Homo sapiens: one gene and its partners. The protein of the gene in region 3 purifies or fractionates together with the protein of the main gene of each other region. This does not show direct contact. Each region holds a gene or a part of one and is shown on either strand. Other genes may lie near its edges.

Evidence for each region.
Region 1: the proteins of DMXL2 (region 3) and PACC1 purify together in Homo sapiens (co-immunoprecipitation; one large-scale study listed by IntAct). This does not show direct contact.
Region 2: the proteins of DMXL2 (region 3) and CD226 purify together in Homo sapiens (co-immunoprecipitation; one large-scale study listed by IntAct). This does not show direct contact.
Region 4: the proteins of DMXL2 (region 3) and ANKRD22 purify together in Homo sapiens (co-immunoprecipitation; one large-scale study listed by IntAct). This does not show direct contact.

Annotation. Positions count from the first base shown.
Region 1 is NC_000001.11:212,408,387-212,411,886, forward strand, and holds part of PACC1 (proton-activated chloride channel), read right to left. Parts: intron 2,136-3,500; coding exon 2,039-2,135; intron 1-2,038. UniProt on the Homo sapiens protein: Chloride channel gated by pH that facilitates the entry of chloride ions into cells upon exposure to extracellular acidic pH. Involved in acidosis-induced cell death by mediating chloride influx and subsequent cell swelling.
Region 2 is NC_000018.10:69,941,374-69,944,873, reverse strand, and holds part of CD226 (CD226 antigen isoform a precursor), read left to right. Parts: intron 1-3,500.
Region 3 is NC_000015.10:51,483,272-51,486,771, reverse strand, and holds part of DMXL2 (dmX-like protein 2), read left to right. Parts: intron 1-434; coding exon 435-699; intron 700-3,500. UniProt on the Homo sapiens protein: May serve as a scaffold protein for MADD and RAB3GA on synaptic vesicles. Plays a role in the brain as a key controller of neuronal and endocrine homeostatic processes.
Region 4 is NC_000010.11:88,845,345-88,848,844, forward strand, and holds part of ANKRD22 (ankyrin repeat domain-containing protein 22), read right to left. Parts: intron 1-3,500.

The sequences.
Region 1 (3,500 bases), on a different chromosome or scaffold from region 3:
TCTCACTCTTGTCACCCAGGCTAGAGTGCAGTGGCATGATCTCGTCTCACTGTAACCTCCGCCTCCTGGGTTCAAGCGATTCTCCTGCCTCAGCCTCCCAAGTAGCTGAGATTACAGGCATGTGCCACCACACCTGGCTAATTTTTGTATTTTTTAGTAGAGACAGGGTTTCACCATGTTGGCCAGGCTGGTCTTGAACTCCTGACCTCAGGTGATCCACCTGCCTCAGCCTCCCAAAGTGCTGGCATTACAGGCATGAGCCACCGTGCCCGGTCCCTTCCATGCAGTCTTCTGTAAGGAGCAGGCAGAACCACATTAGTTCCTGTCTTGTTCCCCTCTCCCACAAACAGATGGGATCCATCCAAGAAGTTGAAGTCAGGCTGGGGCTTCATTCATTCACTCAACAAATCTTTATGGCGTGGTCAAGGCTAGGCTGGTGAGCAAAACAGACTGGTCTCTGCCCTCAGGGAGTTTCATTCTAGTAGAACAGGGGTCCCCAACCCCCAGGCCACAGACCAATACGGGTCCATGGCCTGTTAGGAACTGGGCCAATACAGTAGGAGGTGAGCAGTGAGTGAGCATTACCACCTGAGCTCCACCTCCTGTCAGATCAGCTGCAGCATTAGATTCTCATAGGAGTGCAAATCCTATTGTAAGCTGCACATACAAGGGATCTAGGTTGTGTGCTCCTTATGAAAATCTAACTATGTCTGATAATCTGAGGTGGAACAGTTTCATCTTGAAACCATCCCCCAACCTCCATCTGTGGAAAAATTGTCTTCCACAAACCGGTCCCTGGTGCCAAAAAGTTGGGGACTGCTGTAGTAGAACAGACAGACATTAGTCAGACAAACAAACGCACCATTCCAACAGCAATAGCCGGAAAGGAGAGGCGCGTGGACTATGAGACGGTGCTGGAGGGTGGGAGGTAATCTGGCCAGAAGGTTAGAGAAGGCTCTGTGGAAAAAAATGAGTGAGCTGAAAGCTGAAGAATGATTAGGCATTAACTATGTGAAGAAGGAAAGTGAATTCCAGGCAGAGAAATAAAACAACAAAAAGGCCCTGTGGTGAGAGGGAATGAGGCCTAAAATAAAAAAAGATCAGCATGGCTGAGGGCCAGAGAAAAAGGGGATGAGAGGAAGGAAGGAATGGAGAACTACTCTGAAGTTCAACTGCGTTAAGTGGTAGTACCATTCCTGCAAACAGGAAATACTGGGAGAGGACCAAGCTGGGACTGAGATGATCATGAGGTCAATTTTGGACATGTGGAGTTGAGGGAAGCTTTGGGAGATCCAAGCAGAACTATGACATGGGCAGTTGGAAATACAGGATATATAAATTTGCGGTTTGTAGGTAACCTCTGGGCTAGAGATGTAAACATGGGAGTCACGTGTGAGCAAGCAGTGGCTGAAGCAAGGGAGCAGGCCTGGGTAGAACTGTCTATGAGAGTGAGAGAAAGGGGCCTGCAACCAACATTTCATGCCCAAGAGCTGGAGAGTGACCGCAATGGAGCCTGGAAGGAGTGGCCTGAGAAATGCTGCATCACAGAAGCTAAGGGAGCAGCGTGTATCCGGGCGGAAGAAGTAGTCAGCAGTGTCAAACATTGCCGTAGGGCTCCATAAGATGCCAACTGACTGATGGGACCCTGCTTACCCAACTGAGCAGCATTACTGGACAGGCCTAGTATCTGAAAGAGGGGGCCTATTAGATCTTCTTTGACCCGGATATTAGAGGCTCACCTGCTAGCAGTTTCCAGGGAAAGAGGAACAGAAGAGCAGAGATCCAAAGCATTTGCCATTGTATGCAATGACCTGACCTCAGGAAGTGGCTCAAATTGGAGTTAAGAGCAGATACCAGCCTAGACATATCCTCTGTTCCAAGGCTGGTTAAATATGTATGGCTTTAAAACTAGGGCAATACTTGAGACCTGACACCAGGGTGCAGGGAAGGGGGCTCCTCCTCTCCCACAGTTGGCAAGGCGCCTAGACTGGGGTGTCCAGCTGCAGCAACAGCACAGCAAAGCACCAAACGCACTCACCTGGTAAGATACCCGGACCTTGGACTCTGACCGTCTCCTTGTCCTGCTCGTCTGCCAGCTCTGAGTTCTCAACCACCTGGACCAACTCCTCACTCAGCTAAAGGGAGAAGCAAAGAGAGCAAAGACAAGTCAGCTATGTCAGCCTTGCTTTTCTACACTAGAATAAGAAAGCAGAAGCTGCTTGTCACTTAATTGTCACCAAAAACCACATGACATAGAGTGTGTTACAGCAATTTTACAGATGAGGACACCGAAGCTCAGAAAGCTCAATAAACTTTCTGCTCTCTGTGTTCCTAGGACTACTGTAGCAAGTACCACAAACCGAACAGCTTAAAACAACGGAAATGTCTTCTCTCACAGTTCTGGAGGCTAGAAGTCTGAAATTGAGGTGTTGGCAGGGTTGGCTCCTTCTTCTACGAGTGGTGAGGAAATCTGTTCCATGCCTCTCTCCTGGCTTCTGGTGACAGCCAGCAATCCTTGGAGTTCGTTGGCTCGTAGAGGCATCCAATCTCCACTCTCCGCTGCCATCTTTACAAGGTGTGCTCTCTCTGTGTCTTCACATGGTCATCGTCTTGAAGGACACCAGCCATGTTGGATTAGGGGCCCACCCTACTCCTGTATGACCTCATCTTCACTAATTACACCTGCAATGACCCCATTTCCAAACAAGGTCACAATCTGAGGTACCTGGGGTTAGGACTTCAACATATCTTTTTTAAGGAAACACAATTCAACCCACAATATTTTCCATGGCCATAAAGCCAGGGAAAGATATGGCAGGAGTAAAATCCAAGTTGGTCTAGTTCCAAAGCCCATAGTCTTAACCACTTCCCAAAGGAAGAGGAAATACGGCTTAGAGTCTGCTGAGAGAAAAGAGGGAACAGTGAAGGTGGTGTCAGAGCTCTCTCTGGCACTCTGGCTGAAGTCCACTGACTTGGGCTGCAAATGGCAGAACACAGCAGGAAGGGCAGGCAGTCCACCACAGGGATAGGTGCTGATTATAATCAGCAGCCTGGTAGCCAGCAACCTCAACCTCACTTCACCAGTGGTCTCACCTGTCAAATGGGGAAAATTATACCACTGAGAAGGGAAGAAGGACGGAAAGGATACCATGATAATCAACAAGTCTCTGTAGGATTAAGGAGGAGGGCAAGAGAGCTCAAGACCAGAGCTTAGAAGAGAAGCCATCCCTGAATTGGGAGGGAGAGGGGACAGCTTTCCCAAGCACTTTGTCAGGTTCACAGCATCAGTGTTTAAGGTTTTAAGGTTTCTAGACATTTTCATTAAAAACTCACCTCCAAGAGACAAGTGAAAAACATCTCTTACGAATCTATTCTTCTATCTCCCTCTCCACGACTCCACTCCTGCCCCTTAGAATCAGGCAAAATCTCCAGTTTAAAGCCCTCGAAGCACAAAAGAAAAGGCCAGGTGCGGGGCCTGACACGGTGGCTCATGCCTGTAA
Region 2 (3,500 bases), on a different chromosome or scaffold from region 3:
AATTTACAATGTTTCTTTAGTTAAATGTTTATTTATTAAAGACTCTGTTTCACCATACAAGTCCTCATTTGCTGTTGTATGTAGACACCTGTTAAATCCTGCTTGGAAGTTTTTACTGTGTAGTTTGCTATAAATCAGTCAGGCAGGCGAAGTAGAAGATTGGCAAAGCTTTTAACATAGACTGAGCCATTGGAAACAAGGCCTGAGCCACCAAAGCTAGAACAGGATGCACTCCCCACTGCTGCCTTGTGTGGTATGCCTTTAAAGTTTGGGTTCCAAATTAGCTGTTTTGGTTTCTGTCACAGGACAACCAATTGAAAACAGCTCAACCTTTCAGGATAGAGGATGGAGCTAACCTGTAGAGAACTAAATGATGGTTGTTATGCAAAGGTAGGATTTTTAACATCACATATGAATAGTCTTCGGAATATTTCCTGTTGTTTTCATCCAGATTTGTCATTACTGCTAGTTTTTGAGGTTAGGAAAAGAGAGCTGTCACCTTCATGGGGCTTAAAAAAATACAATGTGGAGATTTTCAGTCAGTTTTCAGTCAGAGGAAGGAATACCGGCTGTCCGTCTAGTTTGAATTCTTCATGATGGTATCCTTAGCCATGATCCATTGCTCTTGTTTTGATTATTTGTATTTTAAAGAGCAGATTGATGCAATGGGCTAGTGAGGGCATTCTACCCTATTTTGAGAGTTTGAGAGCTTCACTTTTTTAAACTAAGAATGATAGTGAGTTTAAAAAATATTAGTTGTATTTCAAAATTAACCTTAGGTGTGCTTGAAATTTTCTTATGTACTTCAGTAACAACATACTGGGATTGCAAATATTGTACTTTTGTATACTGTAAAGGGGGAGTTGAAAATACATTAAATAGTAAAAAAAAAAAAAAAAAGACTTGGAATCTAGAAATCCTAGTTTGTATAATGGATTGTAAGAACTTCAGAAGGATGAAGGAGTTGGGCCCTATGCTCTGTAAATATGTTGATTTTTTGCTATTTATTGATAGCTTATTATGTGCGGAATTTTACATAGTCTGGATCTTCATAGACTTCCTCCTTGAATCTCCTGTGTGCACTTGAACGTTTGTATTGCCTGATTTTACAGATGATGACATTGAAGTGCAGTGAGGTCTAGTAGTCTTTCCAAGGCCCTAAGTTTCACGTATGTCCCAGCAGATAAAGTTGCAAATTGATGTAACTGTCAGCCTGGGGGACATGGGAACCCACCAGGGCCCTTGAAGAAGGAGACCTTGGCCTTTGTACCTCCTATCAATGCTACCCCTCTCCAGCTTTCAGCCTAGAGTTTAAGAGCAAACAGGACATCTTATTCTGAATAAATGGTACTACTAATACAAAGTTATTTGAAAATATGTGTTCTTTCCAGAACAGGCATTTCTTCATTAGCAATTGATTTAGAGACTCTGATGGTAAGAATAAATGCATTTGTTTTTACCTAGTTTGTGAGAAAATATGCAGAGATGACTTGGGGGACCACATTTTCCAGATAGCCCTTTCTAGCAGAGTTTGTGAGGTCATGGAGAAAACTACTGTCACCTACGTGTCTCTGGCTTTATTAGTCAGTTAAAGCAAATATAGTTGCATTTACAGAAATACCCCCAAAATGAGTGACCCACTCAGAATGCTCTGCCACCTAGTGTTTACTGGGTGCCTGCTCTGTAGGATGCAACTGCGTGTCATTTCATTTAATCCTTATGAAGCACTATGGGGAGGTAATATGTTCCCGTAATACAACAGAAGACACTGAGGTTCAGGGTGGTAGACTCACTTGTCCAAGGTTATCAAGCTGCCAAGTGGCAGCACCAGAATGACCCCAGTTGATTTTTCTGAAGAGCCAGAGATCTTAACTCCAGTGGAATGAACCAGGGAGGGCCATGGTAGAGAAAAGTCGTGCTGGACCTTGAAGAATTGGAAGGAATATTTTAATTAGAGAGGCCGGGGTCTGGGGAAGAGAGAAGACAGAGAGGGAAGGGTGTCCTGGGGGTACTGATGGCTTAAAGAAGGGCACAGTGGAGGTGTAAAGTTCATGTAAGAGGCAGAGCCTGGCCTTCTCTGACTAGGGCACTGGATTTGGATAAGATGTGGTTCTCACCCTGGGCTCTGAGGCCCCCTACACCCACAGAGGTGGCCTGAGAGGCAGCCTCCCAGGAAAGGAAGACACTGTGAGAGTGAGACTCTCTCCCTGCATGCACCAGCAAAGGGGCTCAGCTTATGATACTTTAGAGTTTCAGGAAAAGCTTTAGTACAGTAGATTCTGTGCTTGAAAAAGGAGTTGCAGCTCACTAGGGCAGCAGAATGTCAGAAATAAACCCGAAAAGTTATTGATGTGCCTAATGGAATTTTGACTTCTGTCTGTAATGCAGACCAGGGGACATCTCTGACTAGTTTTTAGAGAGACACACAAAATAAAACCAGATTTTTCTTTCACCACCTAAAAGATTACACTAGCTGCAGTCTTTTAGGAGAGTAAGAGTTTGCAGGCAAGGTAAGCAAATAGGCATCTGTAGATTGGAACCTTTACACACTGCTAGCAGGAGGATTAATTGGTATCTCTATTATTTTAGTCAGGCTTCTCCAGAGAAAGAGAACCAATGTGTATATACATGGAGATTTATTATAAGAAATTGGCTCACATGATGTATTAGTCTATTCTCACACTGCTGTGAAGAAATACTTAAGACTGGGTAATTTATAAGGGAAAGAGGTTTAATTGACTCACAGTTCAGTATGGCTGGGGAGGCCTCAGGAAACGTACAATCATGGTGAAAAGGGGAGCAAACATGTCCTTCTTCACATGGCAGCAGGAAGGAGAAGTGCAGAGTGAGGTGGGGGAAAAGCCCCTTATAAAACCATCAGATTTTGTGAGAATTCACTCACTGTCACCAGAACAGCATGAAGGTGACTGGCCCCATGATTCAGCTACCTCCCACCGGGTCCTTCCCACAATACATGGGGATTATGGGAACTACAAGATGAGATTTGGGTGGGGAAACAGCCAAATTATATCATTTTGCCCCTGGCCCCTCTGAAATCTCATGCCCTCACATTTCAAAATACAACCATACCCTCCCAACAGTCCCCCAAAGTCTTAACTCTTTCCAGCATTAACTGAAAGTCCACAGCCCAAAGTCTCATCTGAGACAAGGCAAGTACCTTCCGCCTATGAGCCTGTAAAATCAAAAGCAAGTTAGTTACTTCCTAGATAAAAGAGGGGTACAGGCATTGGATAAATACACCAATTCTAAATGAGAGAAATTGGCCAAAACAAAGGGGCTACTAGCTCCATGCAAGTCTGAAATCCTGTAGGGCAGTCATTAAAACTTCAAGTTCCAAAAATGATCTCCTTTGACTCCATGTCCCACATCCTGGGCATGCTGATGCAAGAGGTGGGCACCCATGGTCTTGGGCAGCTCCACCCCTCTGGCTATGCAGGGTACAGCCTCCCCTCTTGGCTGCTTTCACAGGCTGGTGTTGA
Region 3 (3,500 bases):
CTATGAATAGAACATATGGCTGTATTTCATAATTTATTTACTATTTAAATATGAGGCAGATAGTAATAATTATGATTATGCAGAAATATGTTTGGAAATTAAGAGGAAGTGGTATATAAATTCTAGTGTCATATATAGTATTTAATTTAAAAATGAATGTTATTTAAGTTGATCTTAAGTCTGAGATGATATTAATATACTTTGTTTCATGCTTATTTTATAAATGATCTGTCTAGTTTGGAAGCTACTGGGTTCCAACCTGTTACTCTTTTTGCTATTCTTTAATCTCCTATCAATCATTTAACTACCCTTCACTGTCCCTTCGCCCACCATTAGGATATAAATGGTAGATAATTTCAGGGTATTGATGGGATATTTCATCTCTCTAAATAATTATCATTAAGTAAGATAAGTATTAATATTTAAATTTGCAGGTATGTCTTGAAAAAATGGAAGATATTCAGCTAGCCATGGTTATTGCCCGTTTATATGAATCTGAATTTGAGACTTCATCCACTTATATATCCATCCTAAATCAGAAGATTTTGGGTTGCCAAAAGGATGGCTCAGGATTCAGTTGCAAAAGATTACATCCTGATCCTTTCCTGCGTAGTCTTGCCTATTGGGTAATGAAAGATTACACCCGAGCCTTGGACACATTACTGGAACAAACACCAAAGGAGGATGATGAACATCAAGGTAGGACGTTTTGTGGATTTCTTTTTTTTCTTTTTTAAAGGAAGAGATACTTTCTGAACTAATGTTCACTTAGATTAAGAAAAATCATTACCAGATTTGCTTTTCAACTTTGAGAATTTATTATTAAAATTTCTTGTGTGTCTAAAGGATTAGATAGGATTACCATCCTATTCTAATTACGTATATATTTAACAAGCATACAAAATGTTTGCCACATTCTGTAGCTCTTTTTACATAATCATATAGCCATTTTTTTTAAATGGAAATTTTGGCTGTTACACGTATTGGTTTGTCACATGGGCCTGGAAAAACTTTATGCCTCTGTGGTAAATTTTCTTTTTTCCTTGTTATCCTAAATAATTTAGATATTACAAGCACTTAAAGGATATTTATCAGCATTGTTTTCAATAATTTGAAAGGAATGGAACATTTTAAGTTTTTGTCAATAGAATAGTTAAATACGTTTTAATATATCCACATATAGAAACAGTGTGTCATTAAAAATTGAGGTAGATACATATGTTAATATGTGCTGTATTTTTAAGTGAAAAAAAGTAAGATGCACAGCAGTGTGGTTCTTGTTGCATTTGGCATATGTATGTTGTACAAACATGCACCTGAATGTGCACACATGTTATGTCTGCCTCCTCCATTTCCTTTGGTTGTTTCCTGAAACAAATCATAAGAAATGAAATACTGGTCATTGGTCACTGGCTACCTTTTGGGAATAAAAATGAGGAGATCCTTGTCTTTGACTTTTGACAACTTGACCATGTGCCTTGGAGAGGATCTTTTTAGGTTGAATCTATTTGGGAGTATTTGAACACCCTGGACCTAGATGCCTATCTCTTTCCCAAGACTTGGGAATTTTGGGCTGTTACTTTATTAAATGTGTTTTCCTCACCTTTTCCCTTTTCTTCTTCTTCTGGAATGCCCATAATATGAATATTTGTTTACTTAATAGTGTCCCATAAATCCTGTAGGCTTTCTTCATTCTTTTTTTTCTGTTCCTCCTTCTTCCTTTTTTTTTTTTTTTTTGGTTTGCCTGAGTTATTTCAAAAGACCTGTTTTCAAGTTCAGAAATTCTTTCTTCTGCTCGATCTAGTCTGTTGTTGAAGCTCTTGATTATATTTTTTATTTCATTCATTGAATTTTTTAGCTCTAGTATTTCTGTTTGGTTCTTTTGTATGATATCTATCTCCTTGGTGAATTTCAAATTCACATCATGTATTCTTTGCCTGATTTCATTTAGTTGTATATCTGTATTCTTTTGTATCTGAATGAGTTTCCTTAAGACTATGATTTCCTTAAGAATTATTTTTCTGGCATTTCATGTTTCCTTGTGACTAAGGTCTGTTACTGGAGAATTAGTATTTTCCTTTCCATTCTTTTCCTTTGGTGTCATATTTCCTTGCTTTCTCATGGTTGGTGTGTTTCTACATTGATTTCTATGTATCTGGCAGAAAAAGTTGCCTCTTCTAATTTTATGGAGTAGGTTTCATAGGGAAAGACTTGTTACTATGAATAGGTCCTGAGGTGTTGGTTTGGTGGAGTGCATTGGTTAGATGGATACAGTAGTGTAGTCTCCATGTAGCTTCTTCACCTGTAATCCACATTAGTGGCATTTGCAATCCTCTCAGTTGCCTAGGCTGAAAGAGTTTGCGGTGATGGCCATGTAGCTTTGCCAGGTGGGCTCGCTGGGCAGTTTTTCAGGTTGGGGTGCATATGTGCACACAATGGGTCAGCCAGCTTAGGGTCTGGTTGGCTGGGATTGGGGCCACAGGTCTGTTACTCTGGCCAGGAGTGTGGGTACATGGTCACTTGGCCAGCCTGGAGGTGTGCCTGCCAGAAGCAGCCCACAGGGCTCATATGTGGCCTCACGGCTACTCAGCTGGCCTGGGGTTTTGTCTGTTAGGGGTGGGGATAAGGCTATTTCTCAGGCCCATGACACGATTGCATGGCTGCTCAGCTGGCCTGGGGGTGTTTCTGCAGGTGTTGCCCATGGGTTATTTGTATACCTGTGATGCAGGTGCAGGGCTGCTCAGCTGGTCTGGTACTATGTTAGCTGGGGTGGCAGTGAGGCTGCTCCTCAGGCCTGAGGTGTGGGCATAAGGCTGCTCAGCTGGCATGGGGGCGTTTCTGTTAGGGGCTCATGGGGCTATTTCTCAGGTCTGAGACTGGTGCAAGGCTGTTCAGCTGGCTAAGGGGTGTGCACACTGGGAGCAGCCTGCAGGGCTGTTTGACCAGGCTGGGATGTGTCCACCAGGGATAGCCCACAGGGCCGTGGAAGTGGGCTCTTGGCTGCTTGGCTGGCCTGGTGGTGTGCTGCCAGGGGCGGCTCGAAGGACTATTTCTCAGGCGTTGATTGCAGGCGCAGGGCCTTTGGCAGGCCAGAACTCTGAGTGCAGGGAGCAGGGGCGCTGCACGCTGTTTCTGAGGTCCTGAGTGTGGGCATGTAGCTGCTTTGCTGGCCTGGGGGCATATCAGCTGCTCGTAGGCTTGGAGACCTCTCCCATTTGGGGGAGGGTATGTATGTAGTGGTTTGGCTGGCTCAAGGGCAGGTTCACCCTGGGCAAGACTGCCAGATTGTTTCTCTGACCAAAAGTGTGATGGTAGGGGTTGATTTCCCTGCCATGCAGGACCAAAGTCATAGCCAGTCATGGTCCTAGGCTCTGCATAGCTGGGATTGTAGCATTCAGCTACCCATGTAGGCTTGGAATGAAGACGGGTCCCCAGTGTTGGAGAGGTACAGTGACTCCTGGCCCCCAGAGCAGTGCGCATGCCAGAGGTGACTGGTCTCA
Region 4 (3,500 bases), on a different chromosome or scaffold from region 3:
TTTCCATGTCTAAACTCATCCCTTCTCTTGGCGTTAAATACCATGTATATGCAGACAACTCCTAAATTATTATCTCTTGCCCGAGCCTCTCCTTAAAGGTACATTTCCTGTATTCATCTTCCATCCCCACCTAGATGTCTCATGGATATCGCTAAAGTACCATGTCCAAATAGAACCCTGAAATGTGTCTTTCCTTCTGCCCCTCTCTGAGTGTTCCCATCTCATCAGCACCACCATCCACTGGCTGGCCTAAGGCAGAATACTGAGTATCAACTTTAATTTCTTACTTTCCTTCACTGCCAACCTACAAACCAGGAAATCTTTTAGTTAAAAATTTATCTAAAATTCACCCATTAGTCTAATGCAACCATCATTATCACTCCATAAACTACTGTAACAGCTTCCTTCCAAGATCCAGCTTTCCCTCTGGCATCTCTCAAATTTATTCTCCCATGCTACCAGAGTGGCCTTTTTAAACCCTAATGGTCATATTATTCCTCTCTTAAGATCCTTTACCCGCTTTCCATTGTGTTTTGCATAAAATCTAAATTTTTCACCTTGGCCTACAAGACCTGCCTGATCTGGCCCCTGACAAAGTCTTTACAGTGTTAACCACCATCGTCATTATTGCTATTATCACAATCATCTTGATTCAGAACCATTTCAGCTATTTCACCATTGGTTAATAAATGAACAACTGGAGCCTCATTATCAGTGTTAAAAATTTCTTCAATATCAACTTCTTCCAACTTACTGGTGGACTCTGAAGGTACTTTTTTTTGCGTATGTATGGTCAGACATCTTTTTTTTTTCTCATTTGACATACAGAATCATTCAAAGTCACTTTATTTATAATACTTACTGAACATAGTTGCAGGACAGAGGTTATGCCAGGTATGCACAACTGTCTTTAGTTACTGCATTACAAGCATTGGCAACAGCATATACAACATCCTTTATGCGAAACACCCACACCTATGTTCACTGCTGATAACATACTGTTTACGAAAATGTTTTATATTTACACTGATTGATCTAAGGACACCATTCTCACATGGCTAAATTAATAAAGTCACATTTGGGGAAAAGCACATGGAATAAGTATTACTTTTGATGAGAATTTTAGCTGAAGAATAAGCATAAAAGTTGTCAAGGAATAACAAAATCTTGCAGCCTTCATCCAGTCCAGCTTCCCTGCAGTGAGCATGAGCCATTGCTACAAAATGTTGTGAAAACAATCACAAAAGATGTCCCTGGTGACCCATGCCTTTTGTTAGCATGATAATGGACTAGTAAGAAATTTACTCTTTGAAAATAGTGAGAATTCAAGCTTTTGCCTATTACAGCAGGTTTACATTTGTGTGTGCCTGCTGCATTAGCACATCCCAGCGCAATTATCCTGTCCTTGGTATCCTGATTGCCCACAAGGCCTGTCTCATCGGCTGAAGTCAGTGTCTTTCTGAAGCAATAATGCCAAAACAGTGATGTTTCATCAGCACTATAGACTTGATCTAGTGTGAGAATTTTTATCAGTGATGATCTTGGCAAACTCATCAATAAATTTCTCTGCTGCTTTCTGATCAGCAGATGTTTCGTCACTACAAATATTTGAAAATTTAATGCCATGTTTTTTCTTAAATTTATGCCAAAGAACTACGCATATTCGCAGTTCTTTTAAATTTTCAGTTCATCGTGATAGATCTTTTCCTGTTTCATGATCAGCATACCATTAAGTGGCATGTGTTCTTTGTGATACTGATGGATCCACTTTCTCAATACACAATTGGGATCTTCATTTGTAGCTTTGTGGAATGTTTTTTTACATTTTTCATTAACTTCAGCATAGGACTTAAACAGTTTATCCTTCTATTTCTTTGAGTCATATATGGTGGTCATTTCAACACCATACTCTTTTTTTATTGTTACTTTTTTGAGATGGAGACTCACTCTGTTGCCCAGGCTGGAGTGCAGTGATGTGATCTCAGCTCACTACAACCTCTGCCTCCCAGGTTCAAGCAATTTTCCTGCCTCAGCCTCCCAAGTAGCTGGGATTACAGGCACATGCCTCCACACCCAGCTAATTTTTCTGTTTTTAGTAGAGACAGGGTTTCACCTTGTTGGCCAGGCTGGTCTCAAACTCCCAACCTCAGGTGATCCACCTGCCTCAGCTTCCCAAAGTGCTGGAATTACAGGCATGAGCCACTGCGCCTGGCCTCAACACCATACTCTTCTATCAGACATTTTATACCTATACCACTGTCCAATTTATCCAAAAGCTTGACTTTCTGTGTTATAAGTATACATAAATGCTTCCTTTTTTTTTCTTATCACTGTTACCCATAAGTATCTGCAGACCTTTTTGATATTTTCAACAGTATATTTACATCACAGAGTAGAGAAAAAGCAAAACAAAAACAAAATAAAAAAAAACCCCAAAAAACAAAAAAAGACACACACAGAGAAATACACACAAATCTTGGCCCCATGGAGGCAGAGTGGCAAATCTGCTATAGGCTCATTCATCCTGCACAGGTGCCATTTTTTACCCTTTGTGGACTTGCTTTCATGGGAAAAACTGGGTGTTCAAGAAAAAGATATATCACAGCCGAAAGGGGCTGGGAAATTCTTTTTTCTCTTGTTAATTCTGAGTAAACTGTGCATTGTGTACCTGCATTTTGACTGTGACCCATCACATGAGGTCAAGTAGGAAATTTTCTACTTGTTTCATGTTTGTGCTCAAAAATTTGGAGTTTTGGAGCACTTCCACTCAAATTTTCAGATTAGGGATGCCCAACATATATGCGTGTATATATATATATGTATATATGTGTATATATATATGTATATATGTATATATACATATATATATACATATATACACCAGGAACTAGAAGATGCCTGAAACATAGTATGTACTCAATAAATATGGTTGATTAAACAAATGGATGGGTGAATGAATAAATAAATAAAGGTATACACATTTTCAATCCTGGTGTCTTTTCATATGTGAAAGTTATCATTTTCTCTCTGAACTTTTGTGACTTAGCACAACATTTTAATTTGTAAAATTACTTTCAATATACAAGGAAAGAATTAGAAAACCAGTTGGGATGAAAACGCCTGATGCTCTTCTTGCATATGTTGTTGAATACCAAAATCTTGCTAGGAGTTCATACATAAACAAGGTAGATGGAGAGAGCTGGGAAGATTGTGAGAATGCAATTTTTTCCCCATTGTCTCTGCCTAGCCTTTCTCATATCACAGAATGACACGATGTTAAATGTGAAACCAGATCTCATTCAGCTCTCTTGTTTTGTAATATTAAAACTGTGACTCAGAGAGGTTAAATGACTTCCTCTCAAATCCCTTGAAGTTCCTGGCACAATCAGGTCTAAAATATAGGATTGCTTGACTTTCAGTCCAATGGCCATTCAATTAGTCACATCTCTATTCCTGTATTCCCTGACTTCTCCTCCTCAACTGTACCAGCTTTTCCAATA